Linked DNA regions of Homo sapiens. The protein of the gene in region 2 interacts with the protein of the main gene of each other region in a pairwise test. Each region holds a gene or a part of one and is shown on either strand. Other genes may lie near its edges.

What was found.
Region 1: the proteins of CD4 (region 2) and PTPRC come close enough for resonance energy transfer, tested with the Homo sapiens proteins (one study listed by BioGRID).

What each region holds. Positions count from the first base shown.
Region 1 is NC_000001.11:198,711,112-198,719,867, reverse strand, and holds part of PTPRC (receptor-type tyrosine-protein phosphatase C isoform 1 precursor), read right to left. Parts: intron 6,916-8,756; coding exon 6,796-6,915; intron 3,187-6,795; coding exon 3,028-3,186; intron 1,775-3,027; coding exon 1,566-1,774; intron 1-1,565. UniProt on the Homo sapiens protein: Protein tyrosine-protein phosphatase required for T-cell activation through the antigen receptor. Acts as a positive regulator of T-cell coactivation upon binding to DPP4.
Region 2 is NC_000012.12:6,812,039-6,820,794, reverse strand, and holds part of CD4 (T-cell surface glycoprotein CD4 isoform 1 precursor), read right to left. Parts: intron 6,654-8,756; coding exon 6,495-6,653; exon of another isoform or gene 6,332-6,494; intron 6,037-6,331; coding exon 5,803-6,036; intron 5,065-5,802; exon of another isoform or gene 4,810-5,064; coding exon of another isoform or gene 4,740-4,809; coding exon 4,392-4,739; intron 3,666-4,391; coding exon 3,465-3,665; intron 2,375-3,464; coding exon 2,253-2,374; intron 1,949-2,252; coding exon 1,881-1,948; intron 1,497-1,880; coding exon 1,466-1,496; 3' UTR 1-1,465. UniProt on the Homo sapiens protein: Integral membrane glycoprotein that plays an essential role in the immune response and serves multiple functions in responses against both external and internal offenses.

The sequences.
Region 1 (8,756 bases), on a different chromosome or scaffold from region 2:
AGGCTGAGGCAGGCGGATTACTTGAGGTCAGGAGTTCCAGACCAGCCTGGCCAACATGGTGAAAACCTATCTCTACTGAAAATACAAAAATTTGCCAGGTGTGGTGGCAGGTGCCTGTAATCCCAGCTACTCAGGAGGCTGAGGCAGGAGAATCATTTGAACCCGGGAGGCGGAGGTTGCAGTGAGCCGAGATCACGCCACCACACTCCAGCCTGGGTGACAGAGCAGGACTCCCTCTCAAAACAAAAAACAACAACAAAACAAACAAACAAAACAAAACAAAACAAAACAAAAAAAGAATATGAGGCCGTTTGTCAACATCATATTAAAAAATTAACTATGGAAATTTCTATTTAACAGGAATAAAAGTGACAGATACATTTGTTTAAAAATAAAAAGGGGAATTATGTAAGACAAAGTGCTGTGAAGAAAACTAAAAGGCAAATTATAAACTGATAACATTTTTACGCATGTGACAAAGAGTTTAATATCATTAATATTCAAGGCATTTCTCCGGAGAAAACTGGATAAAAGAGGCAAAGAATAACACAAAGAACAATAAGTAAAGAAACTTCATTAAAAGAAAGATATCAATACCATATTTCAACCACCAAATAAAGAAAAAGAAAGGCGTATTCAGTGTTGGTGAGCCTCTCAAGAAGCAGTCATTTCATACACTGATACACCAGGGCAATTTGGTAAATTTTATAGAAAAAAAAAGTTACATATCCAAAAAGCCTCAAAATACATTTTGACCCAATAAATGCATTTTTAGGAATTTATGAAACATAAATTATTAAAGACATTCAAAAATTTTGCTTTACCAATAAGTGTGTTATCGGAATGTTGTTTATATTAGAGACCAACATAGTTATAGTTAATAGAATGTGATAAAGCCATACATAGAATATTATACAGGCATTAAAAACTACATAGTAGTTAAATATTTAACATAGAAAGGTGTGTGTGATATAGTGATATATTAAAAATACAGTTTTAAAACTGTATTTTGAAAACTGTGTACTCAGAATGTTGATAATACGTGTTAAGTGCATATAAATGTGTATATTATGAAGTTACATGTACAAAATACGATCAGTAGACAGTGAGATAATGAGTGTTTTAAATTCTGTATGCTCACTAGTATTGTCTAGTGTTTATTTCAAATATTTCCTAACCTCAAGGTACCTGTGAAATTTTGCAATTGAAAAATTCCACATTAATAAAGATAAAAAGCCAAAGTAAAGAAAAGGTAGATTTGGTAAAGTAATAATCTGTTGTGCATAAAGTGTTGTGCTTCTTAACACAGAAGCAATAATTTAGCTATAATTAAGTCATATTGAAGTTCTAAAATATTCCAATGAAACATTTGCTTTAAACCACTGACTTGAGCTATAGGAATAAAAATTTTAGAGTCAAATATTTGAGACTCTTTAAGTGTGATTCCATTACACATCAGAGCTTCTCAATCTCATGTGAGCAGTGGTCTTAAAGTTATTTAAGTACTATGAATCAATCATTATAATGTAGTTGGTACTATAGTAATGTAGAGAGCATACTTTTACCTTAAAAGTGTAGTCTGTTGAATATTGAAGATCTTTTACACGGAAATCGCAATTCTTATGCGACTCATTTCTAACCAGAGTATTTCCAGCTTCAACTTCCAAATGGTAACGTTCATGGGGGCCATTACGGTCCCTGGGAGGCCTACACTTGACATGCATACTATTATCTGATGTCATGGAGACAGTCATGTTCCAGACCTGGCTTGGAGCTATCAAAATGAAGAAAGATTTGTTATTAATAATTTAATAGATGCATATGTAAATTACTTGACAATACTTGGATATAGTATAAAGTATTTTAAGTGTTAGCTTGGGGGTTATAAATAAGGAAGTTATGATAGTACATAAATTAAAAAACAATATCAAAACCCTGAAGAATAAATCACTCATTTATTCAGTAAGTATTAGCATATAGGTTGTACATGAAGCCATGAGAGTTATTGCAATCCCTGAAGGAGACTGTGTAGAATTAGAGAATAGAGAAAAAGGGAAGGGAGTGGGGAAGAGGGGGAAGTTTGGGGAGAGGAGAGGAAAAATGTTGTTGATTGGGAAACCTCCAAGTCCTATTACACAATCTAGACCCTTCTTTCCCGGAGTGCTAATGTTATCCTGGTAAACACCTAGATGGGTTCTTCAGGAACAGAAACAAATTGTCTTCTTTTTCTGTGATACAGAAACTCAGGAAAACAACAAAAGCATAGAGCTCCAGGACCAGAACTTTTCAAACCAAAACCTAAATGACCTTAAAAGTGTCTTATATTCAGCCCCAAATAGCACAATATTTCTTCACAAGTCTAGTGCCCGTTAGGGTCTCTGGAGCTATAGATGCTGCCTTAAAACACGGCATTTCTTCTTCCCTGTCCTCGATGGAGGTTAACATGTGCCCCAGAAGCAGATCTAACTTTGGGCCTGGAAACTATGGAGAGATTATACTAGTGGCAAGAGCCAAATGCCATTGAAAGGAAACCTTAAATGGATAATGTGACATAAAATAGAATAGTAAGTAGTTGAGGGTAACGAAGAGAAGAAAATGCTAATAAAATATTACATTTTATGAAATGTTTTATCAGATGAACAGAGGTTAGTAGGCTAATGCTTTATGAGACATTGTTAGGTTTCTGATTACAATTAATATTTCCAGATAGTAAAGACAACAGCAAACAGTGAATGTTTTAATCTAAGTTGGTTAAGTACTTAACTGCATGAAATTGCACAAACTGATGCCAATTAAGATGCTTTTATGCTTTGTCCTTAAAATTCTATGACTATATCTGAAGAAGAGAGAGAATCCAGGATAACGGTTTTTAAACTTTTAGATTTTACGTGTTTATAAGCCCTAGATGTTAACAAATGTGCCAGGTAAATGTGCTTGCTAGAATAAAGATAGAAATATTGTAGGCTAAAAAGTTCATACCTTGCTTTTTACCATTTATGGAAAGAAGCATTAAAACATATAACTTACGAGCACTTTTAGTTGTGAAATGACACATTGCAGCACTTCCATTACGTTGCACTTTTGCAATGATGTAGGCATGTAATGATAAAACATATTTCGTATAAGGTTTTAAATTTTGCAAATCATATTTGATCAGGTTTTTATCCAGATTGAGGCAATCTTTTTCTGAGGAAAAATGTGAAAAAAAATTAGTAAGTCGTTAAAAGTCAGTACTACCACGTACCTAATTAATTTGGTCTCTACATCACATTGTTCCAAGTGAACTCCAAACTATTGAGTGATTGAAAAATAAGTACATCCTTGATACTCAAAAGTACCTACAATTATCAGCCAGTGTATTGAACAAACTCAATTATCATTGGTAAAATTAAATATTGAAAAATTATGGTTTTATATCATTAATTTGGTACATAAAATATTTAATAAGTTCAGATTCATTTGTGAAGACGATCTCTTTTGTTTCTGAGAAAACACAGCCCCCAGTGTATACTGTAAGTCTTGAGTTGCATGTTTCAGAATGATTCTTTTTTAGAAAACCTTTTCTGATATGTAACCTCCAAACTTTGAACATCGGTATTAGCTACTGTTTTGAATGTTAGATGCAGAATCCATTTGATCATCAGTCATTGGGTTGATTCTATCATAGTAATTTGGACACTACAGTAATTAACGGGAGCTGTGAGAATGAGGGAGTTTCATGCCGGAAGTGGAATTCAGCTGTTCATTGAAAGGTAAGTGGAACTGAATACATGTAAGGGAGAAAAGAAAATATTACAAACGGAAGAAGGAATGTTTTTGAGTTTAGTGACAAACCTGATCAGGACAACAGCTCTGGCTGGGGAGGCATATGAGAGGTAGGACAGTGTCTAAGTGTGTTTTCACACTCAGGCAGAAGACTTAGCACTTGTTAAGTAAAAAAATCACCAGCTGCTGCTATTTTTGAGTAGCCAAGTGACATCAGGAAAGAGGATGATTAGAGTGGCAACATGTTTCTGGATAGCAGCAACAGTAATAATAATATCAATAACGATTTTTAAAAATAATAACTCACTGTATGTGCCAAGCACTGTTTCAAGGGGTATACATGAAATAATTAATTTAACCATCACTGCAACTATTAGTTGGTACTCACTATCATCTGATTTTACAGATGACAAAACTGAGCCACAGAGAGATTAAGCAATTTGTTCTGTTTTTTTTTTCTTAAAAAAATAAAAGGCATTACACAAAATAATTTCCAGCAACATCATGGTGGTCTTGAAAGGTGCCTATTGCTTTCAGTAACTTTTGAAAAATAATCCTTTAAATCCAATAAAGCACAAAAGATCTCTTCCCCAATTCCCCAATTACCAAGAAGCTTCACTGTCACTTGCCATCATTAAGTTAACGAGATAAAACTGCAGTTCTCCAAAATATCTTAAGCTAAAAATGTGAGGAAAAATAAACAAACACACTTTGGGAGGCCGAGGCGGGCGGATCGGATCACACGAGATCAGGAGATCCAGACTATCCTGGCTAACACAGTGAAACCCCGTCTCTACTAAAAATACAAAAAAATTAGCCGGGCGTGGTGGCGGGCGCCTGTAGTCCCAGCTACTAGGGAGGCTGAGGCGGGAGAATGGCGTGAACCTGGGAGGCGGAGCTTGCAGTGAGCCGAGATCGCATGACTGCACTCCAGCCTGGGCGACAGAGGGAGACTCCCTCTCAAACAAACAAACAAACAAAACCAAGAGCAGAAAGGAAACAGATCAAGCTACTGAACTTGAACATCTATCACATTTTCTGTTAACCTCAGTTTCATCATATGAACTATGAAGATATGTATGCACATCTCCACTGAGTTATTAAAATAGTTGATAAAATCTTTAAATAATACATAATTAAAAAAACCTGCTAAACCAATAAAACTAAATTAATGTCAATTGCATTTTTTCTCCTCTTTTAATCCCTCTCTTTTAGAGACACTGAAAAAATTAAATTGTGAAGTAATGAAGTGAAATTTAATATCTGATTAAAAAGTAAACTGCAAATTTCATAGACTTTCTTCCTGTGGATTTTTAATAGTAATTTTATTTAAAATGGTGAGAAAAGTTAAGTTGCCTTAACGATACTATAATCCTATCAACTCTCTTTGCCTTAGGTAACATGGGAGAGGAGACAGGTATATGTTTGAGATGAAGGAGAAAACAAAAGCGGAGCACGCTGTTTAGAGTAGAGCTGGCTCCAAAGAGCCCTTTATGCAGTGTCAGGGCATGGTCCAAAGCTGCATTCAGTCACCAATCGGCAGCTTTGGAGAAAAGAAAACACACAGCCTGATAGCTAGCCTCCCCTTCTCAGCCATTCAATCCCGTTTAAGTGTTCTATGTGGACAGCTGTTAAATTTGGGTAACACTATTTAGTTGCCCAATAAGAAGGACCCATGCTAGTTGCTGTAATGAGTTGCTACTAACTCATTACATCCTTTTTACCCTAATTATGCAAATACAGTGGAAATACAGTTTAAAAAAACTGTAAAAATATAAAAGAGCCATAAATGCATAAAATGTCTACCATATACTCTGACATCGACAATACTCTCTAGTAGAGAGAGTGTAGACATTGAGGAATGCAGAAAGGGATAGTGAATAGAAGATTCAGAGAAGAGAAAAAAAAAATGAACAATGTGTTCCCATAGAAGCTACACAAAGTGTTTGTAAAAGAGGTGTCCAATGAGGCAGACAGTACCTCTGCTGTTTTATCTTCCTGGAATTTCCATTTTTCCTTCCACATAGACTTAACTTTTAAATTTATCATAACCTCAAATATATAGTATATATTTATTTTCCTTGGCCTTTGAATGTTAATTTGAAAACTACATGCATATTTAACTTTGCTTTAGTAGTCTGATTATTAAGACCTAAAGACACTAGCAAGAAAAGGCCATTAAAATATAAAATAACATAATGAAGAAAAATAGCCTTTCACTTTTCAAGTTTTGAAGTGTATGTCTGGTTCCTTCCCCACAGCACAGAGTGACAGAATTCTATGAGGTTCACTTCATTCCTATTTTAACCTATGGATAAAAGAATAGAGAAAGGGCTATCCCAGGCATTGAGGCTGCTCTGAGATACTCCACTGATGTTACTTTCTACAAACAATTTAGATACTTTAAATTGTCCAGAAGATATTTGTTCTCTTAAATAGCATCTCATTTGAACATTTCATGAGTGAACTAGTCATAGCACATTTCTTTCTTCTTCTTTTTTTTTTTAATTGCATTACTTCTGCAGAAGTCTAATTCTAAACTTAGAACTATGCTCCCAAGATTACACCAAACTGGCCCCAGCGGCTACATGGGCCCATGTTCATTTTTATTCACCCAACATTTTGTCTGTATTATTAGCTGAAACAAGTTTTACAAGGGGTTTGCTTGTTTGTTGGTTTGTTTAGGAGGCTGAATGATGAGTTCAAAGTGAGTCAAATCACTTACATAATACTTGCAAGACAGAAATGAGTGTTGTCATCCAGAGGTTTTCTGTCTCTAGGCTTTGGAGCACAAAGATTTAAACTAAGACCAAGAAGGACAAGCAAATATTTAGAATGTTCTGGATTTTAGTCATTTCTGGGGCTGGAAAGCTTTGAATGAGTGGAAGCAATTCTAAGATCAGGGAGTATACTATGCCTATGCAGTCTCTAAGCAGAGAGCTTTGTGACTCACTGGCTCAATAAAAATTTCTAGTACTTTCAAATTCTTGATTTCTCTTTTCTGATGAAATTAAATTCTACACAAATTACCTGTCTCTTTTATATAACAGAGGGTAAAATTATGAAATGATCTTTGAGGGGGATTCCAGGTAATTACTCCTTGATGTGCAGCTTCACTTCTACAAAAAATAATCTGAGGCTCTCCTGGACCTGTTAAAAGAATAAGAATGTTATGTAATATGAAAAATAAGACATGGATAAAGCATTCTTCATATTATAAGCATGCATTATTGATAACCATATTTTGACAAATGATGAATTCAAAATAAAATTTAAAGAAATGCATCTGGGCTCATTTAATTTGTTTTAGAGTAAATTCCTTTAACAAAGTAAATGTCACACCAGATTGGCACTGTGAAACCTAAGCATTCCACTGACTTGAAGATATCTAAGAACCCCCTCTTCCTTTCATATACATTATTCATATATATTCTTGCCCAGATACTACCTAAAAATCCTGGAATTTGTAGATTTTGCTGTGCTAAAAATCTGGCATTCATAGCACCAATAAATTTAGCAGTCATTGAGTAGCACTTGTCATTGCTTCCAGTAACTAGTCATTTGAAACTGAGAAAAACTGATAAATGTTTAAATAAAATGTCTGAAGTAAAATTTACATTAAAATGTACCCATTTGAGATACAGTTTAATGCATTTTTAACAAATGTATACATCCACATAACCAACACCACAATCAAGATAAAGAAAATTTCTGTGATCCCAAAATGTCCTTCTGTGGTACTTCCCAGTCAACTCAGCTCCTTTGACCAGACTCACGTACCTTCTGATCAACTTTCTGTTAACTACAGATTAAGTTTGTCTTTTTACCCATTGCATGTAAATAAAATGAAACAAACAGTAAGTACTTTTTCACTCCTAACATATTGCACTCAATGTAATGTTCTGAAGATTCATTCACTTAGTTGCATGTGTCATAGTTAGAATTTTAAAAAATTATCAGTAGTTATTGTAAAGATACACCACATTTTACCTAGGATTCAACAGTGAATACACATTTGGGCTGTTTCCAGGTTTTGGCTACTATGAATGCATCTGCTTTGTCATGTTTCCTCTTTGGTAAATACCTGGAGTGAAATTCCTGGGTCATGGCTGCACATCCTGACCAATAGTTAGTAGTATCCGTATTCTTAAGTTTAGCCATTTTAATGGATGTATAGTATTATCATCTCAGTGTTGTTTTAATTTGTATTTCTCAGTTAACTAATGATGCTGAGCATCATTTAATGTGCTTATTAACCACCTGTGTATCCTCTTTTGTGAAGTATATATTAAAAATGTTTGTCCATTTTCAATTGAGCTGTTTTAGTCCTTATTTTGCAGCTGAAAGAGCTCTCTGTATATTCTGGAAAAACTTCTGTTGTTGAAAAAATTAATTTTGATTTTTTACAAACTATTTATTGCTTTTTTATTTCCTTAGTGGCCTCATCCAAAGAGCAGGAATATTCAATTTTTATGCACTCCAATTCATCAAAAAAGTTTTATGTTTCTTGCTTTTGTGCCCTAGGAAATCTTTGCTAAAGCTACACATTTTCTCCTATGTCTTTGATTAGAATTTTTTAAATTATAGCTTTAGTATTTAGGTCTGGAATCCATTTTGAATTAATTTTTGTGTTTGTTGAGAGGTGAGAGCTGATGTTCATTTTTTTTCTACAGAGATACCAGGATCATTAGTTGAAAAGACTATTTTTCCCCCACTGAAAACATTTTGTGCTGTTTTCAAATATAAAACATAGTTTTCTGGGATTTCTATTTTGTTGCATTGATTATAAAGAATGTAATAATTGTGGTACTAATAAAAATACATTAAAATTTTCTAGTTATGCTGAGGATATAGTTTTTACATAGTTTTATTTGCTGTTCTTGTAGCTATATATTATTTTGGAGAAGTATGAGGAGACAAGGATTTAGGCAGCCTCTTTAGCCTTCAACTATCCTTTTTACATAAAACTTAGAATCACGGGCCGGGCATGG
Region 2 (8,756 bases):
TTTATTGTATTTTTATTTCAGCTCAGGGGAGCAGGGGTGGAGAGTGGGCACAAATGCAAAGTAAGCAAATGGGGAGCCCCAGCAGCAATAGGGGGGTCTTCCTGGAAGAGGCAGGCTTTAAAGACAGGAGGAGAAGGAAATAGGGAAAAGGAGTTGGGACTGAGGGAAGTGGTGAGGAAGGGTAGGAAGAGAGGGGATCCTGAGAGAAGTGGATCAAGAAGATTTGTAACCCTGATTTCCCTGTGTCCTGAATGGTCTGGAGGAGGGTAAGGGAGGGTGTGGGGCAGGCGCAGAGCCTGGCACAATCACCTTTGAGGTCCCTTAGAGGGTTCCCTCTCAGGCTAGCTACCCCCTCTCCCAGCAAAGCTCGCTTCCAGGAGGTTCTGCACAGGGTCAGTGACTGGTCACTGGGCATTCTCTCCTGCAGTGCCTGTGCTCCCAGCTTGCGCTCTGATTAGAAGAGCCAAAGGCTTTGTCCTCTGGTAACAGATTCTGCCACCAGCGGGGGATGAAGGAGGGATTTTAGACAGGGAGGCCTTCATCCCTGCTCGTAAATTCTCTGAGATGGACCCTTCCCATGGGTGCTGTGCTTCTGTGAACCCAAAAGTACACATTGAGTACCCACCACTAGCCACTGGTGAGAGCCGTGTGGCATTTGTCCCTGCATTCAAGAGGCAGCAGTGGAACTTGGGACAAGGGACCTGGGTTAGTCCCGACTCCAGCACTTGCTAGTCCGGCACTTGGTAATCAATCATCTAGCCTCTCTGAGCTCTGGTTCTGGTCTATAAACTGGAGATGATCATCTTAGTTCTGTCACTGCCAGCCTTGTAGGATTTTTCTAAGTCTCAAATAGACAGAGGATGTGAGACATCCCTTGAGGCCGTGTACATGGGGCTGTGTCCAGAGGGGCTGTTTGTGCAAGGTCAGGATGTGAGTCTGTGGTCCCACCCACATAGGGTGAGAAGCGGGCAGCATGGGGCAGGAGGTACTGGCTGCCAGAAACCTCTGGATCTGCATCCATCCTTGACTGGCTTGGCTGTGTGATTTTGTGCAAGTTCCTGCCCTCTGTGGTCCCAGGGTCCTGTCTTGTAAAAGAACAGTCCCATGCTCCATGCTTCCAGACACCCAGCCTCACCCTCCATGCCAGCCAGGGCTGGCCCTGAACACTCCCCTGGGATCCAAATGAGCAGTGGGGAGAGGGTCAGAGAGAAATAATGAGAGAAGGGCTAGGCTTGAAGGAAAAGGAAATGGCGTGGAGGACGGTGTGATTAAGCCTCTGGAAACTAGAGAGCAACACTCAACCAGTGAAGCCGGGGCCTAACCCAGGAGAAACAATGGCAAATTGTAGAGGAGGCGAACAGGAGGCCAGAGGCTGGGGATCTGCTACATTCATCTGGTCCGCAGGCAGGAAACGCGGGGCAGACACCTGGGGAGGCTGCAAGTGGGATCTGCCTGGCCTCGTGCCTCAAATGGGGCTACATGTCTTCTGAAACCGGCTGCAGGAACAAAGAAGAAGGGGAGCAGGTCTGTCCCCACTGCAACCCCTTTGCGTTCTAGCACCTCCAATGGCCTTTCCAGCGCAGCACAGCTCCAGTGGCTTTCCAGCAGGGCCTTTCCTGGCCTGCTGCTCCTTCAGCTCCATCCTCCCACTTCTGCCTCCTTCTAGCTCCTGGCCATCTTTTCCCACCCCTCTATCCTCTCCACCACACCCCTTTAGCCCCCATCTCCTCACCTCCACCCCTCCCAGCTCTTCCTCCTCAACTCCTTCCTCCTCTCCATCCTCCCTTCCTGCCCCCCTTTGCTCCCCTTCCTCCCCCTCCTCTCTAACTCCCTCCCCCTCCCCCTTTCCCCTCTCTCAACCCCTCCTCCCAGATCCTTACTGAGGACACTGGCAGGTCTTCTTCTCACTGAGGAGTCTCTTGATCTGAGACATCCGCTCTGCTTGGCGCTGTCCAGGGACAAGAAAGGGAGTCACGAGGGTCCCAGGCCTCCAGAAGGGAGGTGCCCCTTGGTGGGGGGAGTGGGGGAAGCTGCGACAGGAGAAGCAGTTACATGGCCCAGGCCATCTATCCTGGAATTAACTCTCTGCTCCTTCCTGTCTCTCCCTTGAGTGGGATCTGGGACAGGGCAGCAAGGGAACTTACGAGTGGGCAGAGGGAGCTGGGCCAAAATCAGTTCCCATATACAGGATCTCCTGGTAGAGGACTCAGGGGTTTGAGGGCCTTGTGGGGACCAGGTGTGGGGTTACTCACCCTTCGGTGCCGGCACCTGACACAGAAGAAGATGCCTAGCCCAATGAAAAGCAGGAGGCCGGCGACGCCCCCCAGCACAATCAGGGCCATTGGCTGCACCGGGGTGGACCATGTGGGCAGAACTGCAAGGGAGAGAAATGTGCTCAATGCACCGCCCTCCTCCACGGGCCAGGGGACTGAGGACTGCCCTGCAATCCCTCCTGGCCAGTCTCTGGTTTGACCCTGGGGTTGGGGGAGAGGGGAGGGGTGCCTGGGGGCTCTCAAAGGCCGCCAGTGCTGGGGAATCGGTTTTATGTTTGGGCATATCCATATCCAGGGCACTCTGGAGAGAGAGAAGCTGTGGTCTGGCTCCTGGGCTGTGTGTGTGAGTGCATGTGTGTGTGCATGTGTGAGTGTGTGCATGTGTGTGCGTGTGTGAATGGTGTGAATGTGTGTGTGTGCGCGCGTGTGCGCGTGTGAGTCCATGTGTGAATGTGTGTGCGTGTGTGCATGTGTGTGAATGTGTGCCTGTGTGCGTGTATGAATGTGTGTGCGTGACTGCATGCATGTGCGCGCGCGTGTGTGCACATGTGTGAATAATGCGTGTGCGGATGTGAGTGTATAAGTGTGTGAGTGTACGTGTACGACAGTGTGTGGGTGAGAGTATGTGCGTGAATGTGTAAGTGTGTGTGTGCATGCATGTGTGAGTACATGTGTGTGTATGAGTGTGTGACAGTGTGTGAGTGCATGGGTGTGAGTACATGGGGTGAGAGTGTGGGTGTGAGTGTGGATGTGTGTGTAGTGTGTGTATGAGTGTGTGCGAGTGTGTGAGTGATGTGTGTGCGTGTGTGAGAGTGTATGGGAGTGTGTGCATGTGTGTGAGAGTGTATGTGTGTGAGTGTGTGTGTAAGTGCGTCTGGATTTGGAGAAAAGCCAGGAGCCAGGGAGGGGGGCTCTCGGTCAGGTGGACCCCATCCCTAGGCTGTAGACCTGAGGGAGTGGGAACTTGTAGAATTACAACTGGCAGCCTAGAGCCCAGGACCACAACCCACCTCACTTCATCACTTCTATGCCTCCTTTTGGGGCCTCCAAAGCACCCTGGGACCACAGAGGACACCATACCCATAACCCCCCAACTCAGGCATTGGGAGGCCGGGACTCTGGGTGGTCTCTGCCAACCACAGGAAGGTCCCGCAGCCCAGGAGGCAGAGGCCTTGGAACCTGGGTCCTTACCCTTGATGTTGGATTCCAGCAGGACCTGTCCCGAGTCACTCAGCAGACACTGCCACATCCCCGCCTCAGGGTTCAGCACCCACACCGCCTTCTCCCGCTTCGAGACCTTTGCCTCCTTGTTCTCCAGTTTCAAACTCAGCATCAGCTTAGGGGAGGTGGGTCCCCACACCTCACAGGTCAAATTTTTCTGGAGCTGAGTGGCTGCAGAGGAACGAGAGGCTGAGATCAAAGGCCTGAGATTCAGTAGAACAATTAAAATGATACTCTATATGGGTGACCTTCTTTTAGCCTTTTAGAGCAGGTTTTCATGCAGTCCTACGAGGAAAAACAGCGTTTGGGGTCCAGTGGTATTGGATTTGAATCCCAGCTCCACTGCTTAGCAGCTGTGTGTCTCTGGGCAAGTGACTTAACAACCTGCACCCAGATAGTACTAAAGGCAGGCATACATGTAAAGTGTTTGGATGGGGCCCGACACGTGCTGAGCATCAAGTGTTAGCCATTACTATTTGCAGAGTCGTTATGATGATAAGGAGATAAGGAAGCCAGAAACTCAATTTGGAGCTTGACATTATCATCATTACTATCACACAGAGAGCAGATTTCATTATCCTTATTAGACAGGTCAGGAAGCAGGCCTGCAGTGGGAGGGGGCTTAGCCAGGGTCACAGAGGGTTGGTTATAGGAAGAACTGGAACCCTGGTTCTTAGCCCAAGTGCTTTGGGGATCTTCAGTGAAGCCAGCCCCAGGCTGGCTCATGGATGTCTCAGTTCAAAACCAGCCCCAAACCCAGAGGGCCCTCCCTCACTTCATCCAGGTGACCAGGGCCTAGGCATCCCCTCTTGGGGCCTGGCTTGCCTCAGAGGGAGCCCTGGGCCAGGCCCCTCCAACTCCTTCCCCTGCCCACCCCTCCCTGGCCTGGCCCCTCACCTCTCATCACCACCAGGTTCACTTCCTGATGCAACTTTCCTGTTTTCGCTTCAAGGGCCAGGGTGAGGTTTCCAGAGCCAGCATACTGAGGCAAGGCCTGGGGCAGGGTGAGGTGGAGCGGGAGCTTCTTGCCCATCTGGAGCTTAGGGTCCTGGGTAACCCGTTTTACAGACACTTCCTTGTTCTTCAGGTCAAAGGTGATCCAAGACTTGGAGGAGGAAGCCCTCTCCGCCTGCCACCACAGCTCGCCACTGCCCGTCAGCTTTTCAACTGTAAAGGCGAGTGGGAAGGAGAACTCCACCTGTTCCCCCTCTTTCTTATAGACTATGCTGGAGGCCTTCTGGAAAGCTGGAGGTGGGAAGGGAGAGACCCTGGGTGAGGAGATAGGAAGATGAGGGTGCACGAGTGGGGTTGGCATGTGGAGGCAGCAGGGAGATGGAAGGGGACCCGACGAGTCCAGACACCCACCTTGTCACTTCAGATACTTCAGTTCCTTCCTACCTCTCCAGCCTTCTCTCCCTTCTTCCACCCAGCATTTTCCTACAGCAGGCCACCTCCCTCCTCCCGGAAGCCATCACAGAGCAGCCCAGCCACAGGGGATCCTTGCTGTCCTTAGGATTCCTGGACCACAGAAGCCATTTGGCCTCCACTCCTTAGAGGCGTATTCATCACCCTTCACAAAATAACAGCGAACACTTAACTAGGGCTTACTCTGTGCCAGGCACCATTTTCAGTGCCTTACGTATATCAGTCCTCAACTTAATACGAGGTAGTCACTATGGCAGTTAACATCATCCCCATTTCACAGAGGCTGAAACCAAGGTGCAGAGAGGTTTAGTAACTCACCCAAGGTCACATGGTTGTGGCAGAACCAGGATTTCAATCAGCGTACATGCACTAAACTGGCACACTACCTTATGTCTACCTTAAGTCACATAAGCACCCAGGGGACAGGATCTGGGGTAGGACCTTGGTCTCCCCACAGTGGCCTGGCTTAGAGGTCCAGAGGTACAACATAGAACATCATCAGGGTTGGCTTACTGGTGTTAGTGTCCCTGAGTAAGTGGATTTGCCAACTTGGTAGGGGTGTGGAGCTGAGGCAACAAAGAAAGTAAGCTCCCTGACATTCCTCCTTTGGGGCCTCCAAAGGAGACTCGGGCCTCTAGCATCCTTACCTTCCCCAGCCTTTCCTTTCTCCATGTCCACCACACTGAGGGGTGGCTGCCAATCAGCCCCCTGAGGATGAGGGCCCCAGTGAGTCCTTCAAGACAGGCCTCAGCTCTAGGGGACCTAGTCTTCTCCACTCCTGACCTCCCAGCACCAGAACCAGAAACAGGGCAGTCAGAGCAGAGGGAGGGGCTGTCAGCCCCTGGGGCAGGGAGGAGACTGCGCGAAGAGGGGCTTCCCTTACCTAGCACCACGATGTCTATTTTGAACTCCACCTTCTTCTGGTTCTGCAAGACAGTGCATGTCCAGGTGCCACTATCCTGGAGCTCCAGCTGAGACACGGAGAGGGTCTTCCCCCCCTGTATGTTTTTACCCCTTGGACTCCTACATTGCACTGAGGGGCTACTACCAGGGGGGCTCTCCAAGGTCAGGGTCAGGCTCTGCCCCTGAAGCAGGTGGGTGTCAGAGTTGGCAGTCACTGTGGAGGGAAAGGCCAGCTGTGTCACACACATACCATCCCCAAGGAGAAGGGCAGACAACAGGAAACCAACAACATCTCTCCATTATCGCCGTCCCAACATCTCCTTCCTCCCAGCACCCAGCTGCGCACCCCCAGCCAAGATAGGGTTTCCCTCTCCCCTCCTCTCTCTCTTCTTTCCTCCTCTCCCCTCATCCTCTCTTCCCCAGTCTCTCTCCCTCCTTCCCTTGCCTCCTTCCCTTTTCTTTCCTTTTCCCAAGGCCTCTTCCCTCCTCCGCCCACCAGCATCCCTCACCTGATCAAGAAGGGTTTTAAGACATTTGGAGGCCAGTTTGACAGCCTGGTCCTCTTGGGGCTGCTGCGGTATCACCAGCTCAGGCTGGATTTGGTGCAGGGGTGGGAGTAGTGGGGAAGGGAACCAGGCAGGAGGTATCCTCATCCCCACCTGCCCCACTCACATCCGAACACTAGCAATTGCACCTCCTCCTTCTGGTCCTCCACTTCACAGATGTAAGTATCTGAGTCTTCTATCTTAAGATTCTTGATGATCAGGGGAAAGTTTCCTTGGTCCCAAAGGCTTCTTCTTGAGTCAGCGCGATCATTCAGCTTGGATGGACCTGGGAGCAGAAGACATATGGGGGGGGACTGAGGCGCCCTGGAGACAGGGCACCTCTGGCAAGAGAATGCCCACGGCTCTTCTGATATCAGTTGCTAATTTCCTGCAACATCTGCTCCTCGTTCTAATCAGAGAAACCCGGTCTGGCAAGGAGGTCTCATCATATCCATTTACCTGGCTGGGACAGTAGCTCACAAATACAAATAAAATCATATCCTTATTTGGAGAGCACCAACTCCTACATGCCAAATACTTTACAGGCATCATCTCAGTAATCTCCACAATAATTCCGAGAAATAGATACTGTCAACACTGTTTTGTTTATTTTGCAGATAGAGAAACTGAGACTCAGAGAGATTAGGTAACTGCCTAAACTCTCACATATTGAGATTAAGTAATTACCCAACTCTCACACATTGTAGGAGAATAAACCAGTACAATTTCTTTGGATGGTGATTTGTAATCTATACAGAATTACAAATGTATATACAAAACCAAATGTCCATCAATAAAGAATAGGTTAAATAGATCATAGCTCACCCATTCAGTGGACTGCTATGCAGCCGTAAGAGAGGAATGAGGAAGTGCTTTGTGTACTAATTTGGACCCGTATCTAAGAAACATCACTAACTGAATAAAGCGAGATGTTAAACAGTCTACTATTTGTTTTTAAAGGTGGAGAAAATATATTCTTTGTATATGAAAAGAATAATTCTCGAATTAAACATAAGAAAATGAGGCCATTAAAAAGAGCTATAATGTCTAAAAAAAAATTAAAAAAGAAAATGAGGCCAGGCATGGTGGAAATCTCTCATCCCAGCTCTTTGAAAGATCGAGGTGGAAAGATTGTTTGTGCCCAGGAGTTCGAGATCAGCCTGGGCAACATGGCGAAACCCCATCTCTAAAAAAAAAAAAAAAAAAATTTTTTTTAATTAGCCGCCTTGGGAGGCTGAGGTGGGAGAATCACTTGAGCCCAGAAGTCAAAGGTTGCAGTGAAACAAATGAGATGGCACCACTGCACTCCAGTCTAGGTGACAGAGTGAGACTCTGTCTCAAAAAAGAAAAAAAATTAACTGAGTGTGGTGGTGCATGCCAGTAGCCCCAGCTATGCCGGAGGCTGAGGTGGGAGGATAACCTGACCCAGGAGGTCGAGGCTGCAGTGAGCTATGATCATGCCACTGCACTCCACCCTGGGCGACAGAATGAGACCCCATTTAAAAGAAAAAAAAACTGGGAGGCTGAGGCACAAGATCGCTTGAGACTGGGAGGCAGAGTTTGCAGTGAGATCGCACCACTGCATTCCAGCCTTGGTGAGAGAGTGAGACTGTCCCAAAACACACACACACACACACACACACACACACACACACAAAAATAACCTTGGTTGCCTCTAGGAAGAGGAAGTGAATACTCATGTGTAGGAAGAAAGCTTTTCACTATATGCCCTTTGCTTTTTTTTTTTTGAGATGGAGTTTCGCTATTGTTGCCCAGGTTGGAGTGCAATGGCATGATCTTGGCTCACCGCAACCTCCGCCTCCCGGGTTCAAGCAATTATCTTGCCTCTGCCTCCCGAGTAGCTGAGATTACAGGCATGCGCAACCAAGCCCGGCTAATTTTGTATTTTCAGTAGAGACAGGGTTTCTCCTTGTTGGTCAGGCTGGTCTCGAATGCCCAACCTCAGGTGATCCGCTCGCCTTGGCCTCCCGAAGTGCTGGGGTTACAGGCGTGAGCCACCACACCCAGCCTGCTTTCTTTTTTTGTTTGTTTGTTTTTATGGAGTCGAGTGTTCGATCTCTGCTCATTGTAACCTCTGCCTCCTGAGTTCAAGGGATTCTCTTGCCTCAGCCTTCGGAGTAGCTGGGATTACAGGTGTACACCACCACATCTGGCTAATTTTTGTATTTTTAGTAGATACAAGTTTTGCCATGTTGCCCAGGCTGATCTCGAACTCCTGACCTCAAGCAACCCGCCCACCTCAGCCTCCCAAATTGCTGGGATTGCAGGTGTGAGCCACTGCACCCAGCCTATATGCCCTTTTCTATCTTTTGAATTTTGACTCCCGTAAGTGGTGGAGCTAGGATTAAAATGCAGCCCGTCAGGAGTC